Regions from separate parts of the Homo sapiens genome. Here all the other regions are linked to region 2. The links come from fine-mapping of genetic effects on gene expression. A gene starts in region 2. Each other region holds a variant in brackets. All regions are shown on one strand. Distances are between the middles of the regions. Region 1 overlaps PALB2 (partner and localizer of BRCA2). Region 2 holds the start of EARS2 (glutamyl-tRNA synthetase 2, mitochondrial). Region 3 overlaps GGA2 (golgi associated, gamma adaptin ear containing, ARF binding protein 2).

Evidence for each region. PIP is the estimated chance that this variant, and not a neighbour inherited with it, causes the effect.
Region 1: its variant is the best candidate, but not a certain one, in a credible set for the expression of EARS2 in whole blood (INTERVAL, PIP 0.53).
Region 3: its variant is the best candidate, but not a certain one, in a credible set for the expression of EARS2 in whole blood (TOPMed, PIP 0.85).

Annotation. Positions count from the first base shown.
Region 1 is chr16:23,628,099-23,633,098 of GRCh38, forward strand. It overlaps PALB2 (partner and localizer of BRCA2), which reads right to left. Exons shown (of 13, transcript NM_024675.4): 5 at 1,542-2,371; 6 at 1,106-1,177. Among named protein-coding and RNA genes, the nearest start is that of PALB2, 11 kb to the right of the region's middle. The variant C/CA (reference allele first, on the strand shown) is at 3,011.
Region 2 is chr16:23,554,440-23,559,787 of GRCh38, forward strand. It overlaps EARS2 (glutamyl-tRNA synthetase 2, mitochondrial), which reads right to left and starts at 2,911. Exons shown (of 9, transcript NM_001083614.2): 1 at 2,766-2,911. The coding sequence starts at 2,904. UBFD1 (ubiquitin family domain containing 1) reads left to right here and starts at 3,288. Exons shown (of 7, transcript NM_019116.3): 1 at 3,288-3,328; 2 at 3,511-3,840; 3 at 5,029-5,237. The coding sequence starts at 3,304. RefSeq lists enhancers at 1,596-2,240, 2,601-2,880, 2,885-3,529, 3,071-3,270, 3,530-4,173 and silencers at 3,341-3,430, 3,531-3,710.
Region 3 is chr16:23,482,340-23,487,339 of GRCh38, forward strand. It overlaps GGA2 (golgi associated, gamma adaptin ear containing, ARF binding protein 2), which reads right to left. Exons shown (of 17, transcript NM_015044.4): 7 at 4,371-4,451; 8 at 3,676-3,813; 9 at 584-665. Among named protein-coding and RNA genes, the nearest start is that of GGA2, 26 kb to the right of the region's middle. The variant T/C (reference allele first, on the strand shown) is at 2,040.

The sequences.
Region 1 (5,000 bases), 73 kb after region 2:
TTGTAATCCCAGCTACTATGGAGGTTGAGGCACGAGAATTGCTTGAACCTGTAGGCGGAGGTTGCAGTGAGTGGAGATTGGAGATTGGAGATTGCCCCACTGCACTCCAGCCTAGGCAACAGACTCTGTCTCAAAAAATAAAATAAGTTATTAAAATTGACTCAAGAATAAATTCCGAAACAGAGCATAGGTATTACTATGCATCCTTTATAGAAAAGGAATCTGGGGCTCAGAGGTTACACAATTTGTCCAAGGTGACATAGCCAGTAACTGGGAAAAACTTTATGTGGATTTGAAGTGTTTTCCTTCACACCAGTGATTCTCTGGGAGAGCTTCTGCACCCCCATCTTCAACCCTACACCTAGGACATTTAGTAATGCAACATTTTCAGTTACCACACTGCACAGAAAAGATTAACCACTAGAACTGCTCCCCATTTTCTTATAAATCACCATAAGTGATTCTTCCAGAAACATTACACCATTTGAGTAGGAGAGGCATGAATAACTCTCATTTCACTCCGTCAAAATGCCTGTTAGATTTATTTTATTTTATTTTTGAGACAGAGTCTCACTCGCCCAGGCTGGAGTGCAGTGGTAAGATCTTGGCTCACTGCAACGTCTGTCTCCCAGTTCAAGTATTCTCTTCCCTCAGCCTCCCTAGCAGCTGGGATTATAGGCGCCCACCACCACGCCCGGCTAATTTTTGTATTTTTAGTAGAGATGGGGTTTCATCATGTTGGCCAGGCTGGCCTCAAACATCTGACCTCAAGTGATCAGCCCGCTTCAGCCTCCCAAAGTGCTGAGATTATAGGGGTGAGCCACCGTGCCCAGCTCCCTAACTTAGATTTAGACATGAAGTTCAGTTACTTAGCCTAAGTTGTTCTTGCCAATAGGTTGGCATAGAAACTTTAAGAGGAGAGCTCAAAACATAAACAGAGGTAAATATTGGGAAAAATAACCAATCCAAATCTGTTTTTCTGAATCTGTTTACCAATATCTTTAATAGTATTAAAGAACAAGAAGCTATATGACTGAATTCTTTTCAGTTCATTAAAGTTTTCATATGTAAGACACGAGACACTGGAAGAGAATATTCTTCTGACCTTTAACTCTGAAACCAATTGTAGGTTGCCTGGGTTTATGCTATCAGAAGCAGGAAGCTCTGCTGTTTCAGTCTGTGAAAACAAAAGTCACATCATTAGTCTACACTTTATGTATAATGTCTGCCTGCATTACCCACTCATCAAAATGTCTACTTCGTATTGTCTTTATTTCCTCTTATAACAGCAGCAAAGCTCCAAATGCAAACTGTTTCACTGATAACAAAGAGAATAGGACCTCCCATATTTAAAAGAAACATTTTAATGAACCTTAATTTCCCCAGAATGAACTTAATGATTACAATGAAATCATATCAAAGAAACACGTCAAACCATTCTTAAACGTGGAAGGCCCAATGCGCAAGCAAGTCATGCTGTTTACATTCACTAAGGCATTTCATTCCTTCAGAGAAAATTTCACAGAGGAAATGGATTGTACCTGTTCGACGGAATGTTTATGCAGCTCCTGGCATGTGTTTCTACAGAGCTGATTTTCTTTAAAAGTGAATGACTCAATGGGTGGAGGTGTTCCTGGCGGGACAGAGTCACAGTCACAGGTAGGTTGTCCTTGCCTGCCTGACACTTGCAGGGTGGTATGTGGTTTTGCTGGGCTGCCTGAACTGTCGAATTGTTTAGTATCACTGGCAAGACAGACTGAGTCTTTCAAATGAGCAAGTTGGGGTGTGCAGCAAGTTCGTCCAGCAACTTCTGTAGATGCTTTTTCATAGGAGCCTTGAGGGCCAAAGGCTGGAGTAGTACCTAAGATGGGGAAAGCAGGTGAACACATGTCTGTGGTAGGCCTGTCATTATCATCAGGCGCAACCGTATTTAAAGGAGTATAAAGTAATATGGATGAAGAAAGGCCCGTCTTTGTATGCTGGCTTTGCGAGTTTGGCCTTTTGGGATGTGATTTTCCTGGTAGAACAATAAGGTCCTCTTCTAAGTCCTCCATTTCTGTATCCATGCGTTTAGGACTCAGTTCCTCTGGAAAAATACAGCTTCCCTCTTTAAGATGTCTCTCTCCAAACATTTTTGACTCAAAGGGCTCCACTGGTTTTTCTGAGCAGGACTTCACTTTTTCAAGCTTAAGAGGTCCAAAGTCTTCATCAGGTAACTGAAAGTCTGTGATACTGAGAAAAGACAGTAGTTGCTTTAAACTCAGCATTCCATCCCTATGAAATGGAGCCGTGAAAGCATCATCATCCAAGGATAAATAAGCACTATTACTCCAAGAAAGGGAATCCTCTTTTTGATGACGACTTTTCTTCCCTAAAGAAGAAAAATAAGTCACAAAATAGTAACAAAACCCAACAAAACAGACAATCTGTTTCACTGATGACAAAGAGAATAGGATCTCCTAGATTTAAAAGAAACATTTTAATGAACCTTAATTTCCCCAGAATGAACTTAATGTTTACAATGAAGTCCTATCAAAGAAACATGTTAAACCATTCTTAAATGTAATACCCAACAAAGAGTGAGCTTCTAAACTCAAATATACTAAAAAATGTTCATTACTTTTCCCATCCATGACTCAGAAACTTGGGCGAAGGGTTCAAACAACGGTCATGAGTTAGTTGATTAATTAGCAGCTATTTTTCTGCACTACCCAAAACAGTGTATTGCTAGCCAGGTATGGTAGCTCACAGCTGTAATCCTAGTACTTTCAGAGGTCAAGGTAAGAGAATTGCTTGAGCCCAGGAGTTCCAGACCAGCCTGGGCAACACAGTGAGACTGTCTTTAAAAACAATAAATAAATAAATAAAAATTAAAAAAAATAAGGCCAGGCATGGTGCCTCACACTTGTAGTCTCAGCACTTTCAGAGGCTGAGGCAGGCGGATCACTTGAGGTCAGGAGTTCAAGACCAGCCTGGCCAACATGGTGAAACCCCGTCTCTACTAAAAATA[C/CA]AAAAAAAAAAAAAAAAAAAAATTAGCCGGGTGTGGTGGCTGGCGCCTGTAGTCCCAGCTACTCCGGAGGCTGAGGTGGGAGAATGGCGTGAACCCAGGAGGCGGAGCTTGCAGTTAGCGGAGATGGCACCACTGCACTCCAGCCTGGGCGACAGAGTGAGACTCTGTCTCAAAAAAAAAAAAAAAAAAAAAAAAAACTAAACTAAAAAAATTAGCTGGGCATGGTGGTGCGTGCCTGTGATCTCAGCTACTCAGGAAGCTGAGGTAGGAGAATCACTTGAACCCGGGAGGCAGAGGTTGCAGTGGGCTGAAACTGCACCACTGCACTCCAGCCTGGGCAACAGAGCGAGATTCTGTCTCAAAAAATAAATAAATAAATAAAACCAAACCAAACAAAACAGTGTATGGCCAACAGTATAAATAAATAAATACATAAATAAATAAAACCAAACAAAACAAAACAGTGTATGGTCAATAGTATTAACTAGGAGAAGGGACTGAGGACAAGTCTCAACTCAACCACTGATTTGCAGTGAAACCTTAGGCAAATCGATTTATTTCATTTTCCCTTTTCTCATTGTCTCTCATAAGGGAAATGAACTAAAAATACCTACATTCTTTCCTACCTCTAAAACTGTGATTTCAACAGGCTGCCAGAGTATGTTCTACAAAATGCTGGCTCTTCTCACTATGGAAAACTTAGTCCCCTTTTGAAGCAAAGAGTAATTTACTGCTTTTTGTTTGCTTGTTTGTTTCAAGACGAGGTCTCACTCTGTTGCCCAGGCTGGAGTGCAGTGGCGAGATCTTGGCTCACTGCAACCTCTGCCTCCCAGGCTCAAGCAATCCTCCCACATCAGCCTCCTGAGTAGCAATTTACCGCTCTTATTGCAAATGGTATCCCACATCATTCAAAATGTTGCTATATCCTCAATGATGAATGCATAAACAAACTGTGGTATATACATACAATGGAATACTAGTCAGCCATAAAGAGGAACAAAGTACTGATGCATGTTACAACAGAAACATACCTTAAAAACATTATGCTAAGTGGCCAGGCTCAGTGGCTCACACCTATAATCCCATCACTTTGAGAGGCTGAAGGCAGGTGGATCACTTGAGGTCAGGAGTTTGAGGCCAGCCTGGACAACATGGTGAAACCCCGTCTCTACTAAAAATACAAAAATTACCCAGGCATGGTGGCAGGCGCCTGTAATCTCAGCTACTCAGGAGGTTGAGGCAGGAGAATCACTTGAACCTGGGAGGCAGAGGTTGCAGTGAACCAAGATTGTGCCACTGCACTCCAGCCTGGGCAACAGAGTGACACTCCATCTCAAAAACAAACAAACCCATTATGCTGAGCAGCCAGACACAAAAGGTCACATATTGTATGATTCCATATATATGAAATACCCAGAACAGGTAAATCCATAGAGATAGAATGCAGATTGGTGGTTGCCCAGGGATGAAGTAGGGGGTCAGGGGAGGAAATGGGTAGCAGCTGCTTAATGGGTATGGGGTTTAGGGGTGATGAAAATGTTTTAGAATGAGATAAGGTGGTGGTTGCACAACACTGTAAATGTATTGACTTGTTCACTTAATTTAAAATGGTTAATTTTGTTACGTGAATGTCACCTTGAGAAAAAAAGTTTTTAAATGTAGCTGCAGTTTACTACAATTATAGCAGACTATTTCAAACTACTGGCTGGGCCTGGTGGCTCACGCCTGTAATCCCAGCACTTTGGGAGGCCGAGGTGGGTAGATCACCTGAGGTCAGGAGATAGAGACCAGCCTGGCCAACATGGCAAAAACCCATCTCTACTGAAAATATAAAAATTAGCTGGGTGTGGTGGTGGGCACCTGTAATCTCAGCTACTCAGGGGGCTGAGGTGGGAGAATCGCTTGAACCTGGGAGGCAGAGGTTGCAGTGAGCTGAGATAGCGCCACTGCACCCTATCCGGGGCGACAAGGGTGAAACTGTCTCAACAAC
Region 2 (5,348 bases):
AACTGAAAGTTAACAGCTTTTCCAGAGTTGTCATTACCTCTTACCGTACCTTCTTCGGACCAGCCCACAGCCCTAAGTCTCCACAATGAGCTCATCTACATTTACAAGTACAAGAGGCAGCAGAGGAGAGAAAAAGCTCTTCTGGGGCCAGGCCGACCCTGCTTCAACACTGATGTGTGTAACCTTCGGATAGTTACTGCAAGGACACCAGAAAACCAGTGGTATTCAGTGGCACTGAGTCCCACGAGTCCCCAAGACAAAAGAGGAACCCAGCTGCTGAAAACAAAGCCTCTTACATCAAGTACACCTGGATTCAAATTCTGCATCCACCATTTATTAGTTGCTACCCCTTGAGAAGGAACTCTACTTAACTTTTATGAGCTTCTATTTCCTCATCTGTCAGAGGGATTAAGAGCAAAAAAATAAGAACCTTCTTTATTATAGGGTTGCTCTGAGGTCTAAATGCTGACCAAAGTAAACCCTCAATTAATTTCAGCTACTGTAATGATCTGTGCCTGATAATTCTTTTATCTGTTTATAGTCAAAAGCCTTTCCCACATGGGCTTTCCCCGCAAATGAGCAAGGAAATGAGAAGTACAATCATCATAATAGAGGCTGTGTATTAAGTGCTTTCTGGGTGTACTAGACCTTACTAAGTGGTTCGGCTGCATGAGCTTAACCCCATAAGACAGATATTATTATTAGCCCCGTTTTGACAAATGGTGAAACTGAGGCTCAGATTCATTAAATAATTTGCACATCTAGGCCAGGTGTGATGGCTCACACCTATAATCCCAGCACTTTCGGAGGCCAAGGCAGGTGGATCACTTGAGCTCAGGAGTTCAAGATCCGCCCAGGCAACATGGCAAAACCCCATCTCTACAAGAAAATACAAAAATTAGCTGGGCGTAGTGGTCACACACTTGTAGTCCCAGCTACTCGGGAGGTTGAGGTGGGAGGATCACTTGAGCCCCGGAGGCTGAGGTTGCAGTGAGCCGAGATTGCACCACTGCACTCCAGCCTGGACGACAGACAGAGCCAAACCCTGTCTCAAAATAACAATAATAATTTGCACATCTAGTAAGTTACACATCTAATAAGTGGCCACGACAGAAATTTGGACCCAGGCAATCCCAGGCTTTGGCATTCTACATAAGTGCTCTTCAAAGCAAAGTGTGCAATCCAGTGCTGGTCTGAAAACAGTTGTCAGTTCACAATCAAGTACAGAAACTGAGAGTAAAGGTTTAGAAACTTTTGTTGTTGTTTTGAGATGGAGTCTCACTCTGTCACCCGGGCTGCAGTGCGGTGGCACGATCTCGGCTCACTGCAACCTCTTTCTCCTGGGTTCAAACGATTTTCAGCCTCCTGAGTAGCTGGGATTACAGGCCTGGGCCACATGCCCGGCTAATTTTTGTATTTTAGTAGAGACAAGGTTTTGCCATATTGGCCAGGCGAAACTTACATAGCAATCTGGCAGAATGATTTTACCTCTGCTAACCCAAATAAAATGAGATTGGTTTGTATTTTGGATGTTTTCAAAATTTTATTTTTCTGGTCATTATATTAATTTTGTGCAAATATTGATACACAATTGATTGGAAATTTAAAACCAGCACTTCCACAACAGATGGTTTGAAAGGCACTGCTCTAGGCTATACTGCCTGCCAGAAAGATCCTGTCATGTATAGCTGGGATTTTACTACAAAGATCTTTGTATGTTCATCCTGGGATTTGGGATGAGAGGCATACTCCGTGTAGAGAACGTAGAAGGTAGCCTTACTGGTGGGAACCAAAAGGCCCTGACGAGATCTCCAACAGGCTATACAATGGGCCTCTGTCACCCTCTAGCTTGCTAAGCTCCCAACAGCACTAGCACAGTGCCTTGGTACCTGCGATTTCCTCTACCCAGAAGGTTCCTTCTTTTTTGTTTTTGAGACACAGTTTCGCTCTTGTTGCCCAGGCTGGAGTGCAATGGCGCGATCTTGGCTCACCGCAATCTCCACCTCCTGCGTTCAAGCGATTCTCCTGCCTCAGCCTCCCAAGTAGCTGGGATTACAGGCATGCGCCACCATGCCCAGATAATTTTGTATTTTTAGTAGAGACAGGGCTTCACCATGTTGGTCAGACGGCTCTCAAGTGATCCACTTGACCTCAAGTGATGCACCCACCTCTGCCTCCCAAAGTGCTGGGATTACAAGCGTGAGCCACCGCGCCTGGCCTCCAGAAGGTTCCTTCTATAGGCTTCACATAGCGTGCTCCTTCTTGTCATTTGGATCTCAGCTCAAATGTTACCTGCTCAGTAAAGCCTTCTGGAGCGTCCTTCTTAATCCCCAGTCTCCTATCCTGTTTCACTTCCCGCATGGCACATGTGACTCTAAAATTACACTTATTTTTTATAAGTGTCTGCGGCAGCCACTAGAATGCAGACTTCCACAGAGCAAGGCCCCTACCTTTCTCAATGATCACTGTATCCCAGCGTCTACAACACCTGTTACACAGGTTGTCATCAATGCACATGTATGGAATGCATGAAAAAAAGATCGAAAGAGATGGGATGGCACAAAAAACACAAGAAACTCCTGGCAATTTGAATTATTTCCGCTCCTGCACCTCAGTTTCCGCCTCTGTAAAATGGGCTCGCGCTGCCTTAACCCTCCTCCGCCCGCCCACTCTGACACCACCGGAAAGGATTCATTCGGGAACATTCGTGGGGCGGAGACGGGACAGGGGGCCTCGGCCTGTAGCGTCACGTCCGCCAGGGTTACCTGTGGGGCTGGGAGCGAACCGCACTCGCACCGCAACCCCGGCATCAGTGCCCAGGTTGGCCTCGCGCCGTCCTACGGGGCGGCCAGAGGCCGCCGAAGGCCTCTCGCGCTGCAGCAGTCTCCTCAGGAGCGCCGCCATGTGGGATGGAATAGCACACGTGGGCTTCTCCCTGCGTCACTTCCGGGGACTGCTTCCAGCCAATCGGCCTCCGCCACAGCCAGCGCAGCCTTGCCCCTTAAAGTCACAGGCCCCCTAGCGCGAAATCCCACGCCCCCCTGGACGGCTGCGGCCGCACTCGCCACCAGGGGGCAGAGGCCAGAGAAAGGGCTATTTCCCGGACCCGCCCCCTTCAGCTTGGGAAAGCGAAAGCGTGGCAGGGGCCGGACCTGGGAGCGGAGGAGGCGGGTCTCCATAGAAACCTCCACCTGTTTCCGGCCGGGCTGTGAGAGATTAGGGGCTGCTGCGGGGGCCAATCTCAGCCAGCTCGCCTCTTCCCAGCGGCCTCTGCGGGAGCGGTGGGTGTTGTACACAATCATCATGGCGGCGGCCGGGGCCCCGGATGGTGAGTGCGGCGGGGGTGGCGGGCGCCGGGCCGGGGCTGAGGTTGCGGTCGCTCCTCTGGGGGATGCGGCCCGGCCCGGGAGGGAGAACCGCGGCTCGGGAACGGAGGTCCGGCGGCGCCCGGACAGCGTCCGTTCCCAAGCCCAGCCCGCGGCGAGCGCCCACCCCCTAACCCCCTTGCAGGCATGGAGGAACCTGGCATGGACACGGAGGCCGAGACTGTGGCTACTGAGGCTCCCGCGCGGCCCGTCAACTGCCTGGAGGCTGAAGCCGCGGCGGGGGCGGCGGCCGAGGACTCCGGCGCCGCACGAGGCAGCCTGCAGCCGGCCCCGGCCCAGCCCCCTGGGGACCCCGCAGCCCAGGCCTCGGTCAGCAACGGCGAAGACGCGGGCGGCGGCGCGGGCAGGGAGCTGGTGGACTTGAAGATCATCTGGAATAAGACCAAGCATGACGTGAAGTTCCCCCTGGACAGCACAGGCTCCGAGCTGAAACAGAAGATCCACTCGATTACAGGTAATTCCTGTGGCGCTGACAGCCAGTCTTCCCCACCCCGCCTCCTGATGGCCCTTGCACCCTACTAGGCACCTGGTGGCTTTCCTTGCATCAGGTCCCCCCATCCTTACAGCAGTCTTCTGAAGGATACTTGGATGCCCATTACTCAGCTGGGGAAAGAGACTCAAGTTTATAGAGCTAGTAAGTTGCAGAGCTGGGATTAAAGCCGAAGTCTGACGTTTAGGCCCCAGTTTCTCATTGATGTTGCTCTAACATCTCTAATTAAAAAATCACCTAAGGCGCTTGTTTTACAGCTTCTGGGCCCTTTCCCAGGAGATTCTGATTCAGTGGGTCTGGGATGTAGCCAGGAATTTATTTTTAGCAAATATCTTAGGTAATTCTTCTAAGTGAAGTTTAGGAAACGCTGCTATTGACTTTGATGCTGGTTCTTCACAGTCGATTCTGTTTCTTAATTTTACCTTGTTCATAGCTCTTTGCCATCTGAGATTTCTTTTCTTTTTCCTATTTTTTTTTTTTTTTGAGACGGAGTCTTGCTCTGTTGCCCAGGCTGGAGTGTACTGGCACCATCTTGGCTCACTGCAGCCTCCGCCTCCCAGGTTCAAGCGATTCTCCTGCCTCAGCCTCCCGAGTAGCTGGGATTACAGGTGCCCGCTACCCCGCCGGGCTAGTTTTTTTTATTTTATCCACCCACCTCGGCCTCCCGAAGTGCTGGGATTACAGGCATAAGCCATCACTCCTGGCCTTGAACTTTTTTTTTTTTTTAAAGCTTTCTACATGTAGCCTTGTAATCTCCATTAAGAACAGGAGTTTTGTCCCTATTGGCTTCTGTAGCTCTGATGCCTGTGGATTCTCACTTAATATGTGAATGATTTAGATGACTGAGGAACAACTTGGAAAGAATGAGAGCTAGTACTTACTGAACAATTATTCAATGCTAGCCACCGTACTAAATGCCCCGCATTGGTCTCTTAATCCTTGAAACAGGTCTGTACAGAAGGACTTACTCTAATAAATCTTCTACAGTTCTAGAAACTGAGGTTCAGAGGTTGTAAATCTCCCAAGTTCACAAAGCTAATAGGTGGTGGAGGCAGTATTCACTTTTTGGTCTGTTACCAAAGAGCTGTGTAGTATCCATACATTTTTCTGTCCTTCCTTCCTTTCACTGTCCACCTTCTACCTTTTCCCAAGGTCTCCCGCCTGCCATGCAGAAAGTCATGTATAAGGGACTCGTCCCCGAGGATAAAACATTGAGAGAAATAAAAGTGACCAGTGGGGCCAAGATCATGGTGGTTGGCTCCACCATCAATGATGTTTTAGCAGTAAACACACCCAAAGATGCTGCGCAGCAGGATGCAAAGGCCGAAGAGAACAAGAAGGAGCCTCTCTGCAGGCAGAAAGTGAGTCCATCTTGTGCTTCTTGGTCTTGAGAAATTTGAGGCTTTGTCCTCTTGAGCCGTGGCTGGTTATATTCTCCCTAGAATAAGCTCCTTTTTGGACAGGGCCCATGA
Region 3 (5,000 bases), 72 kb before region 2:
GTACAGATGAAGTAAGATTAAAAAAATCAGCTATGAGCTGGTAATTATTAAAGATGAGTGAAGAATATATAGGTTTTACTATTCCCCTCTCTCATGTTTCGAGATTTTCCACAATAAAGAGTTAAAATTCTTTTTTAGTAACTGTGGACAATTCTCCACTTCCTTACAGATGTACCTTCCATTTCCCATCGGCCTGGCCCTCTTAGTTGACCTACCTGGCCCCTGAAGGTACAAAAGCCCGTGATCCCCTTGAGACACCACCCACAGCTGTTTCTCTGGCCCCTGCGATTGGTCAGCTTTTCCTGAAGCCTCCAGTGGGATCTTTCTTCTACCTCTCACACCCCAATCTCCATGGTCAATTTCCACTTCTTTTCAGGCTTTAGACCTGCTGCTGATTTCTTACTGAAGCCTGGATCCTGCTGGAAGTCAGTTCTGAGGCAACTCAGGCCACACCCTCCCCAAGCCCAAGCTCCACGGAACCGAAAGTCCACTCTGTCTTGTTCCTGGCACAGCAGTGTGACAGGAGGGACCGAGTCTGTCTTGCACCTGGGCTGCTAGCTACACCCAAGGAAAGAAAACTTACCGAGTGCATCATCGTCATCAGTGGTGTCACTCGCCAACCGGAACAGCGTGGGCCGCAGCTTTTCACACCTCTCATACACGACCTGAAAGAGCAGAGCTTGGTTCATGACACACGCCCAGGCACCCCATAACGCCCCCCTCCAGGGCCCCAGGAGCCTTCGATCAGGCAGACGGCAGAGTCTGGGGCTTCAGAAGGCCTCCCAATGGTCCTGACTTAGAGACTGCAGTTTTGAAGTAACATGACAGAGTTTCAGAAAAAGACTACAGGCTACAAGTGTATGATTTCTGAAAATAAAATAATCTGACCGGGCAGGGTGGCTCACGTCTGTAATCCCAGCACTTTAGGAGACCAAGGTGGGCTGATCACCTGAAGTCAGGAGTTCAAGACCAGCCTGGCCAACATGGTGAAACCCTGTCTCTACTAAAAATACAAAAGTTAGTGGGTGCCTGTAATCCCAGCTACTCGGGAGGCTTTCTCTTAGGAATTTGGAAAGACAGTAGTTCATTTCTACTAATCTTGTGAAGTGGAAGGACAGGTAAATAAAGAAGTTACGTGGAGGCTGGCTCTCCTCCTGTGCAGAGAGACATAAAAAACTGGAATGCAGAGGGAGATGGCTGAAACAGACCTGCAGAAGGAGGTGGAGAACAGAGTTCCAAGGGAGACCAACAGCATGGCTGCCTCGAACCTGGCACAGACAGGCTGTGGTTTCTTTTTGATTGTTTGTTTTTTTGGTTTTTTTTTGAGACAGAGTTTCACTGTTGTTGCCCAGGCTGGAGTGCAATGGTGTGATCTCAGCTCACCGCAACCTCCGCCTCCTGGGTTCAAATGATTCTTCCTGCCTCAGCCTCCTGAGTAGCCGGGATTACAGGCATGCGCCACCACGCCCGGCTGATACTGTATTTTTAGTAGAGATGGGGTTTCTCCATGTTGGTCAGGCTGGTCTTGAACTCCTGAACTCAGGTCATCCGCCTGCCTCGGCCTCCCAAAGTGCTGGGATTACAGGCATGAGCCACTGCGCCCGGCTGGGCTGTGGTTTCTTAGATGTGATAACAAAAGCACCAGGAAGACATTAAAAAAAAAAAAAGGCCAGGCATGGTGGCTCATGCCTGTAATCCCAGCACTTCAGGAGGCCAAGGCAGGTGGATCACCTCAGGCCAGGGTTCAAGACCAGCCTGGCCAACATGGTGAAACCCTGTCTCTACTGGCCAGGCACAGTGGCTCACACCTGTAATCCCAGCACTTTGGGAGGCTGAGACGGGTGGATCACCTGAGGTCAGGAGTTCGAGACCAGCCTAACCAACATAGAGAAACCCTGTCTCTACTTAAAAAAAAAAAAAAATACAGAATTAGCCAGGCGTGCTGGCACATTCCTGTAATCCCAGCTCCTCGGGAGGCTGAGGCAGGAGAATCGCTCGAACCCGGGAGGCAGAAGTCGTGCGGAGCTGAGATCACGCAA[T/C]TGCACTCCAGCCTGGGCGACAGAGCGAGACCTTGTCTCAAAAAACAAAACAAAACAAAACTCCCGCTTCAAAAGATGCTATCAAAATAGTGAAAAGACAGCCCAAAGGAAGGGAGAAAACTGTCTGATAAGGAACCTGTATCCAGAATATATAAAAAACGCTTGTAACTCAAAAAAGACAATCCAAAAGATGGGCAATGGATTTGCACAGACATGTCTTCTAAGATGCACAAGCTGCCAATGAGCATAGGAAATAAATAAGCCATCAAGAAACAGAAAGTTGCAATGAGACAGTACTTCACACCCTCCAGGAGGACTCCAATCAAAAAGATAACAGCAAATGTTGGCAGGATGCAGAGAACTGGAGCCAATACATTGCTGCTGGGAATGTAAAATGGCATGGCCACTTTGGAAAACAGCTTGGCAGTTCCTCAAAATGTTAAATATGGAGTTACCCCAAGATCCAGCAATTCCATTTCTAGGTATATACCCAAGAGAATTTAAAACCTATGTTCACATAAAAACTTGGACAAAGTTCAAAGTCATTATTCGTAATGAATAATTCAAAGGCATCATTCATAATAGCCAAAAAGTAGGAACAACCCAAATGCCCATCAGCTGATAAATGGAGAAACAAACTGTGGCATAGCCACACAATGGAACGCTATCCAGCCATGAAAAGGAATGAAGCAGTGACACATTACCAGATGGATGCACCTGCAAACATTAGGCTACGTAAAGGAAGCCAGACACGAAAGCCCACGTATTGTGCAACCGCATTTGGACGAAGCATCCAAATAAGCAAATCCAGAGAGACAGAAAGTGGATTAGTGGTTGCCAGGGACTGGGGAAAGGGGAGTTTGGGAAAGGGGGAATGACTGTTAATGGGTACAAGGTTTCTTTTAGGGGTGATTAAGATATTCTATAACTAGGTAGGTGTGATGGTTGCTTTTATGGTATGTTAATTATCTCATAAAGATGCTATATAAAAACCAAGATCTCAAGATGTGGAGGAGCTAGAACTTGCATATGCTGCTGTTAGGACTGTAAAATGGTGCAATCACCCTTGAAGATAGCTTAGCCACTTTGTTTCCTAACAAGTTAAATATATACTTAGCATATGACCTAGTAATCCCAGACATTTACCCATAAGAAATGAAAATCGATGTTCACACAAAATCCCGTACAAAATTGTTTACAGTAGCATGATTCACAATCACCCAAAGCTGGAAACAACGCAAGGCCCATCAACAGGTACATGCTGTGGTACATCCAGGTGACGGGACAGTACCCGGCAATAAGAAACAAGCTACTGCTACACACAGCAACGTGAATGGATCTCGAGTGAGATCCAGAAACCAGGCAAAAATAGAGGGTTATGTACTGCATCATTCCATTTATACAAGAGTCTGGGAGTTGTCAGCCAATCAGAACAGAAAGCAAATTAGCAGCTGCCTGGGGACTGGGGAGCAAGGGACAGACAAAGGGAGGACAAAGCAGCACAACGACATTTGGGGAGGTGTCAGATATGTTTACCGTCTTGACTCTGAGATGGCTTCATGGGTGCAAACAGGTGAAAGCATTTCAAACCCACTTTAGTAAACATGTGCAGCCCCCTGTGTTACACCTGTATTACCTGCAGGGCCTCCTGGTCGGGCGGGGCCTGCCCTGGCCTGCGGTACATGCTCAGCATCTCCTGCAGCACCTTCACATGGCTTCGCACTTCCTCCACCGCACTGACCCTCTTGGACACCTTCTCCGATTTTTCTTGTTCCTTTTGGGAAAAAGAGGAGGATGGGAGTGAGGGAGCAGAAACCCTGGCTGAAGCCTGAACAAGGGATGGGAAAGAGTCACTATTGAGAGAGCTCGCTCAGGGGCATCACCAGGATGTTAAGTGCATGGGAGAACTCACACAGTGGGTGAAAAAATACTCAAAAGCCCAGAGTTCCTGGGGAGGAAAATGCAGTTTGGGGACTGGTGACCATGACCTCTGCCTTTGTGCCACCAGCCTCAAGTCCTCTGAAAAGCAGATTCCTAAACCTGGACTTTGTCCATACCAATACCTGTTGCTGGGACCCAAGCTGGTGTCTAGGAAATGCTTTGAGCAGCATGGATGAAAGCAGCTGAGAAGTACGGCAGCGGGATTTCTGGTTCCAATCACCACCTTGCTGCCCTTGAGGGAGACTATGGCTGTTCCCCAGAGTTCAGGGCTAGGAGCCACTCTTTCTCCCAGGCAACCGTTCCTCTACCCCTCAAGCATAGGCTCATATGCACTGTCCTTCAGCCTCTGTCAAATGCTACTTCTACTGAACCAACTGGAAGAATGCCCACCTCCTTGACCAAATTCTTGATTAACCGGTTTGCAGCCTGAAGGTCCTCGGGGTGGTTGCTCTTTAGAAGCCTTGTCAGAAGCTGCAGAGAGTGAACAGGAAGAGTAGGTGAGACCACAACTCCCTCAGGCCTAGAGCAGAAGCAGCAGCAACAGAAGAGTTAACACTAACAACAGTGCACACATTTTACATGCACCATCTCACCAAATGGTCCAAGGACACTACGATGCAGGCACTCTGACTATCCCAATACACCACTGGTTTTCTTTTCTGTTGTTTTTTTTTTTTTTTTGAGACGGGGTCTTGCTCTGTTGCCAGGCTGGAGTGCAGTGGCGCAATCTCGACTCACTGCAACCTCTGCCTCCCGGGTTCAAGCAATTCTCCTGCCCCAGCCTCCCAAGTAGCTGGGACTATAGGCGCGTGCCACCATGCCCAGCTAATTTTTGTGTTTTTAGTAGAGACAGGGTTTCACCATGTTGGCCAGGATGGTCTCAATCTCTTGACCTCGTGATCCACCCACCTCGGCCTCCCAAAATGCTGGGATTACAGGCGTAAGCCAGCGTGCCTGGCCTGCCACTGGTTTTCAGTGGGGTAGGGGGATGTGGGGGTTACTTCTCCCAGGGGATGTCTG